2 linked regions of the Homo sapiens genome follow. The protein of the gene in region 2 purifies or fractionates together with the protein of the main gene of each other region. This does not show direct contact. Each region holds a gene or a part of one and is shown on either strand. Other genes may lie near its edges.

Region 1 (3,749 bases), about 56 Mb from region 2:
AGAGTCTCTGTCGCCCAGGCTGGAATGTGGCGGCACAATCTTGGCTCACTGCAACCTTTGCCTCCTGGGTTCAAGCGATTTTCCTGCCTCAGCCTCCTGAGTAGCTGGGATTACAGGCGTGCACAACCACGCCCACCTAATTTTTTATTTTTAGTAAAGATGGGGTTTCACCATATTGACCAGGTTAGTCTCGAACTCCTGACCTCAAGTGATCCACCCACCTCGGCTTCCCAAAGTGCTGTGATTACAGGTGTGAGCCACCAAGCCCAGCCTCTACCGTGTCTTTCTAAGCACTTTAGTGATGTTTCAGCTTGCAGCCTCATGGTGCCATGATGACTGCCATGTCCCCAGAGATGGAAAAGCAAGCAGGGAAGACAGAACACCTTCCTTACCTGTCTGTGTTCTTTTAACGGCTGGAACTTCCACAAGCTCCTCAGCAGACTTCCTGTGCCATTTCTTGGCTAGAATCAGATGACATGGCCACTTCTGGCAGCAAGGGAGGATGGGAAAAGGAGGGCCTTGCAAAGGGGGACAGGATTGCCAGGCTGGATTTAAAAGGTCTAGAACTCACCCAACTGCTCTGGGAAGTGGTAGGGTCACTGGTGTGGGCAGAGGTTGGCCTCTGGAAGGTGGAAAAAAAAAAACGGTCTAGGGCTGGGAAAGGAGGTCTCTTGGATTTACCTGGCTGCCCAGATAAATGGGGAGGGGGAGTCTGCAGAGGGGCAATGGGGAGAATCAATTCAGAGAATCTGACAAGATTCAACTGGGCTTGAAGAGCAGCTATCTGCCATGTGTCTGACTCAACTCAAATGCCACTTTCTTTGGGGACCCTTAAGTGAAAGGCCTGCTCCCTTTCCTCACCCAGAGCTTACACAACTGAGTTTGTGACCCCTCATCTATGCCAGGTCTGGGCTGGGGGCTGGAATCACAGTAATAAAGACACAATCCCTGCCCCGCAGAGATTAACTGAAAATAGGTAAATTATGAAATTGTGAGGGGGAAGGGAGGTTCGAAATTAAAGTCATCATCAACGGGGCTGGCAGCCCCAGCAGAGGAAAGAATAGCATAGCCTAGAGCAGTGGTTCTCAACCAGAGACATTTTTCCCCCAAAGGACATTTGGTAATGTCTGGAGATACTTGGTTGTCCTGAGGGGTACTACTTGGTATCTAGTAGGTAGAGGCCAGGGATGCTGCTACATATCCTGCAATGCCCACAACAAAGAAATGACAGTGCTGAGGTTGAGAGACCCTGGCCTAGTCCAAGGGTTCTCAAACTTTGGGTCTCGGGATTCCTTTATGTTCTTAAAAGTTTAAGATATTCAAAAGAGTTTTTGCTTATGTCATATAGCCTCTGGATTCAGAAGCCTCTGGATAATCACACTGTACACCCCTGAGAGAATGAGAGTGAAAAAGTATTGTGAAAATAGTTTTCATTTTGTGAAACCCCAAGAGGATTTTTGGACCGGTAGACAGGCTGGGACCACTGGGACCACACGGTTGGAGAATGTTTGGCCTGGTGTTTAAGGTCACAGCTCTGAAACCAGATTTCTCAAGTCTAAACTGCAGCTCCACCACTAATTAGCTGAGGGACGTTTCTGGTACTCAGCGTCCCCATTGTTACCCATGGGTGACAAGGACAGTACCTGCTGCCTGAGGCTACTATTTTAGTCCAATAAAGCACTTAAACTGGGCGGACAGCTAGTTTAGTTATGATTGCTATGACTCCAACAAACATAGGGCCTGGGGCTAACTTGTCTTCAACACCTTGTCTAGTGAATAAATCTAGTTCAGGAAGAGAAACAACAGCCCGCAGGCCTCGGTGGGTCTCTGGAGGTGGAAACCTCTTTTGCATTGGGTTTTGATGGTACAATGAAGGGCATTCTGATCAGGCTAACAAAAACACTGCTCCCAGGGTAGGAGTCCTAGCCCACCTCGGGAACCTCAGCCTCCACTTTCCATGCCACCTGTGCCCTAAGTCTACAGGGCGTTAGGACCCCACAAGGCACTTTTGTCTTTCTTGGTTCCCACTGAAGATTTTACCCCACCTAGCCCTTCGACGCGTCTGTGCACGGGGCCATTTCCAATATGGCAGTAGCCCCGCGACTGTTTGGGGGGCTCTGCTTCCGTTTCCGGGACCAGAATCCGGAAGTGGCTGTTGAGGGGCGTCTTCCAATCTCGCACAGCTGCGTTGGCTGTAGAAGAGAACGGACGGCGATGGCGACGGTCGCAGCAAATCCAGCTGCTGCTGCGGCGGCTGTGGCGGCGGCAGCGGCGGTGACTGAGGATAGAGAGCCACAGCACGAGGAGCTGCCAGGCCTGGACAGCCAGTGGCGCCAGATAGAAAACGGCGAGAGTGGGCGAGAACGTCCACTGCGGGCCGGCGAAAGCTGGTGAGGCTGGGCTGCGGTGGAGCCTCGGCAGAGGGAACGGTGGGGGCATTGACAACCGCTGGGGATTCGGCGGCCGAGGGCCGCGGGAAAGCTGCTGCGGGGTGCGGGGGCGGGGGAGTGGCCGGCGGGACAGCGGGCTAAAGGGGCGGGGAAGTGCCTTTGAATGAATCGCAACGTCTGGAAAAGGGGCGGGGCCTGTGTGGTGCAGTCTGACGCCTGAGAACAAAATGGGGTTTGTTGTGATGAGACCAGTTTCGGTCCTGGAGGTGGGGCCGGGCCTGCGTAGTGAAACTGCGTAGGAACCTGGGAAGAAGGTGGGTTCTGCTACATAAGGCGGGGGCGCGGCCTGCGCTGCGTAATGCAACTTTTGGGGGCGAGGAGCGGTTTCCGATTGCTCCGGGGCGGCTGGGAACGAGGCGAGCTTTGTGACGTCAGCAGAAGAGCGGGATGGAGCCGAACGGTCCGAGGGAGGGAGCGGGGACCTCCGTGGGGGAGGGGGGAGGAGCCTGGAGCCTGGGAACGAGGTTAGGTTGGTGACGTGAGCTGAGGGGCGTGCTCTGAGGCCGAGGGACGACAGTGGAGGGGAGGTGGTGCCTATGAGGCAGAAAATGGCGCCTGCGAATAAGCAAAGTTTATGACGCGCCGTGGTTTTTGATTCTGGCGGAAGCCTTCCCGAGTCGAGAGAACGTGCAGGTGATTAGCACCGGAGGGGCCTTCCATGTTTAATTGGTTTTCTGTGTTGGTACTGTTTTGTTTTTAGAATCAAGAAAAAGTCGTTTTTTTAAAAAATAGAATTTTGATAAATCGGCTTGTTTTACTGATTTCTTGCTAAACAGTCCTTCTTGAAATTTACTGCTTCTGAGTTCATTTTATTTCTCGCCGAGTTGCATCTCGTTTTTTAATTGTGAAATACGTAAGACTTAAAAAGATTATATAAAACATTTACGCAGCCCAGATTGACGGACATCCTGTTAAAATAAACGGCCTACACTCTTCAAAAATGTCAGGATCATGAAAGACAAAGGCTGAAGAACTGTTCCAAATTGAAGGAATTAATGCAATTTAACGAGTCATGATAACTAAATGCAACATGTGATCCTCGATTGGATCCTGGAACAGAAAAAAAAATTATTTTAAAAATCAATTTTTTATCATAAGATTATTTTTGTCTCTTTTACTGTAAAAGGCAATGGAAACGTCGGTGAAATTTTATTAAAGTGGGTAGATACTAGTACTACTAATAATTGTGATCATTGTGGCTGTGAAAAATAATATCCTTGTTTATAGGAAATACTGAAAAATTTAGGGATAAGAACGCATCGTGTAAGCAGTTTATTCTCAAATGCCTGAAAAATTAGC
Region 2 (3,749 bases):
TTTTATACCTGTTCTGTACCACTCCACAGGGCAGAGCCAGGACCAATGTGTGTAAACTACTGGGAGGCAGATTTTAACTCAACAGAAGCAAAAATCAATTAATTAATTAATTTTAAAACTCTGAATGATTAGAACTTTCTGAGATTTCAGTGAGATATCTTATAAGGCAGTGAGTTCTCCATCACAGGATTTAAGAAGAATAAGGATAGAAATGAATGAAATGGGACTTCTCTAGGAAAGAAACTATACAAATGAGAAACCAACCCTTGATGAAAAAATAAGAAGGCATAGTGAAACTTGGTTTTAAAGACACATCTCACAGAGAAATTGGAAAGTAAAACAGTTATAAAAAAGATATGAAGGTAAACTAATATTTGTCTAAATGCTATCTCAACACAAAGTTAATCAGATATCAGAGAAAAGCAACAAACAGTTCTTAAAAGGGGAAATTTCACATGAATTTCTGTTCAGAAACTTACTAAACAGCCTGGCTTTAAAACAAAATCCCAGGATCCTCACAGATCAGATGGTCATCTACCCTGAAAGTGTAAAACACAGAGGGAAGGGAAGTAGTATGCTCTGTAGGGGAAAGAGCATCTGCATAAGAAAGTAGCATCCAGGCTGATGTGAGTAGATGAGAGGCAGGCATAAGGTTAAAGATCATAAAATACTGTTAGATAAAAAAAAATACATATTGCAATGACAATTGAAAATGCTAGCATAATTGTAGTCCTGCTATTCAGTATGTGGTCAACAGAATTATTGCATAGTTTAATATGGAATGCCCTCCCTGCTGCATCTATCTTTTGGGGTCCAGCAGTCCCAGAACTCAAATATTTGTTGATTTAGTGAATTAATATAAACTTCCTCAACCAGAAGCACCAAGAGGTGGCTGGTTAAGGATTGAGAGTCCCAGTAAAATCTATTTATTCTATTATGAATAACTACTGAATAATTTATATATATGTACACATGTATATAAATATATTTTATAATCTATTCAGTGTGTATACATGCATATATATGCGTGTATATATATACACGCATATATATGTGTGTATATATATACACACATAGAGAGAATAATGCCAAGCTCTCCACCAAGGACTATCCCATTTCAGATAATAAGTGTTCTGGACTGTTTGTACTTAGATGGACAAATACGTATTTGATTTATGAAAATCAAAGTATTCATTCTTTTTAGATCTACAAACTTTACAAACTCAACTCTTTCTACAGGTCTCGAACTGAATGATTACCAATTTAGATCTGGGGGCTCAAAAAAACAAAATGTGATGTCAAGAAAAAGTGAAAGATTGTCTCCCATGAAAGTGACAAGAGATGAAACATGCTGAATGAGCCTAAATGGACATGATGGAGATACGGATGTGGATTAAAACTGAGAGTGTTGGGATATAAGGATATAATACTGATTTATGAAGGTGAACAGTCAAACGTCAGTGCAGGATCTGAACTGCAGGGGAAATAAGGGGCCTTGGTGGCTAAGGAAGGGAGGAGGGGAGAAAGAGGTGGTACTAGGGGAAGTAGCACAGAGGAAGAGGCAATACTACCCGAGACTAGATGCGGACCGTCTCTGGCAACCAGGAAAAGGCAAATACAAAGAGAGGTGAGTGACAATGCCTGGTGTGTCTCGGGTCAGAGAACACTAGCAGGCACTAGCAGGTGGCTGCGGCAGGGCCGCAGATCAAAGTGGTAACTGGGGATCTGAGTTCGGCAGTGACGCGCGTCCCTCACGTGACCAGGAGCCTCTATGTGCCCAAGTCCCTCTCGTCCCGGTCTTTTTTTTGCCTGTCCACCATCTCCCTATTACCCTTTGGTCGAGAGGGAAAGCAGAAGAAGTAAGTTCCCTCTACCCTCTTAAATCGGTGTGAGTGTCGGCGCTGCCTAGTAACCCGGGGAATGGGGTTGACAGAATCGGGATGGCGGAGTCCAGGCCTTTCCCTAAGCTCCAGCCCCGCCCCCCGCGCCCACATTTCTGTGCAAAATATGGTGGTCTTTGGGGCGGGGTGGGGAGGCGAGTACCTCCCCCGTCCCCCGGGAGGGGGGTACAGACATTTGGAAATAGTTTCTAAAAATGCTTCGCTTCCACTTCTCATCTGAAAAGAAATGGCAAGCTTTGCGGGGTGGGGAGGTGGGAGCACGGAGGACGAAGCTTGACGCAGGGGCTGAGACGAAAAGAGAACCCGAGAGCTAGGGGAGCGTGCAGGCAGTGGCTGGTGCCCAGAAAGTGGGGGGTGGGGGGTGTCAGTCAGTCCGTCCCTCCTCCCCACTCCCCGCCCCCTACCCTGTCTTGCGTCTGTGTGCAGGTCTGCTGGTCACAGCGGGGCACCTCGAGGAGAGGACGACTAGGAGCACACGGCCCGGAAAGGTCCAGGTCAGGGAAGGGGTACGCAGTGGGCCGGGACTGGGGCGCGAGGGTGGACGCCGAAAGGCATGGAGTCTGCAGGCCGCACTGTCCCGCCCCTGTCACTGCGGGCGAGGCCTGTAGCAAAGCCTGCTGGGAAAATGGTGGGCTTTCGGGAAGGAGGGGGCGACCGGGAAGCGGCGGAGTCGGGAGAGCCGGAGAGCCTCTGGGAAAGCGCAAGGTTGAGGACCTGGCCCCCGAATCAGGAAAAGGCAGGTATTGGAACCCACGGCCTGGGTGTTAGTCCAGCCGCTTAGTATTCTGACTCTATTCTGCCTTTCTTGTCTCCTAAGAATAACTGTGCTTGAAGAAGAAAATTCCCAACATGGACAAACCACGCAAAGAAAATGAAGAAGAGCCGCAGAGCGCGCCCAAGACCGATGAGGAGAGGCCTCCGGTGGAGCACTCTCCCGAAAAGCAGTCCCCCGAGGAGCAGTCTTCGGAGGAGCAGTCCTCGGAGGAGGAGTTCTTTCCTGAGGAGCTCTTGCCTGAGCTCCTGCCTGAGATGCTCCTCTCGGAGGAGCGCCCTCCGCAGGAGGGTCTTTCCAGGAAGGACCTGTTTGAGGGGCGCCCTCCCATGGAGCAGCCTCCTTGTGGAGTAGGAAAACATAAGCTTGAAGAAGGAAGCTTTAAAGAAAGGTTGGCTCGTTCTCGCCCGCAATTTAGAGGGGACATACATGGCAGAAATTTAAGCAATGAGGAGATGATACAGGCAGCAGATGAGCTAGAAGAGATGAAAAGAGTAAGAAACAAACTGATGATAATGCACTGGAAGGCAAAACGGAGCCGTCCTTATCCTATTTAATGTGTTCGGCCTTTAATTCTGTTTTGCCTGCTAATAGTATTGCCATTGCCACCTGGACTTTCTGTTTGCATTTTCTTAATGCCTTTTCCCATATTCTGAATTTTAACTTTTTGTGAGGCTTTATTTTAGATGTTTAGCATGTAACTCGCTTAAAGTTGAGGTTTCCCCCTAAAATCTACAAGTTTCCCTCTTTCAGTCATGAGCCCTACACATTTGCATGAAAGATGTACATTATATATTGTGAAACGAAAAAAGCAATTTTCAAATGGTATATATTGTATCCCATTTTTGTAAAAAAAATGTATATTTATATATTAATATGCAAAGAAAAAGCTAAAAGTATAGACTTCAAAGGCATAACAGTGGTTGTGTGGTAAGATAATAGGTGATTTTTTAAATTTTTGTTTTATCTGAATTTCTCATTTTTTCAGGACAAACGTTTTACTTGTGTTGCAAAAATATATAATGAAAAAATCACACAATTTTGAAGAAAACTGTCAATCAGCTTATAACGACAAT

What was found. Proteins that work in one complex are often made in the same cells at the same time.
Region 1: the proteins of TCEAL1 (region 2) and USP11 purify together in Homo sapiens (affinity purification with mass spectrometry; 6 studies listed by BioGRID, with this or other methods). This does not show direct contact.

The regions. Positions count from the first base shown.
Region 1 is NC_000023.11:47,230,830-47,234,578, forward strand, and holds the start of USP11 (ubiquitin carboxyl-terminal hydrolase 11), read left to right. Parts: upstream 1-2,179; 5' UTR 2,180-2,214; coding exon 2,215-2,390; intron 2,391-3,749.
Region 2 is NC_000023.11:103,627,167-103,630,915, forward strand, and holds the start of TCEAL1 (transcription elongation factor A protein-like 1), read left to right. Parts: upstream 1-1,808; 5' UTR 1,809-1,859; intron 1,860-2,327; 5' UTR 2,328-2,407; intron 2,408-2,718; 5' UTR 2,719-2,750; coding exon 2,751-3,230; 3' UTR 3,231-3,749.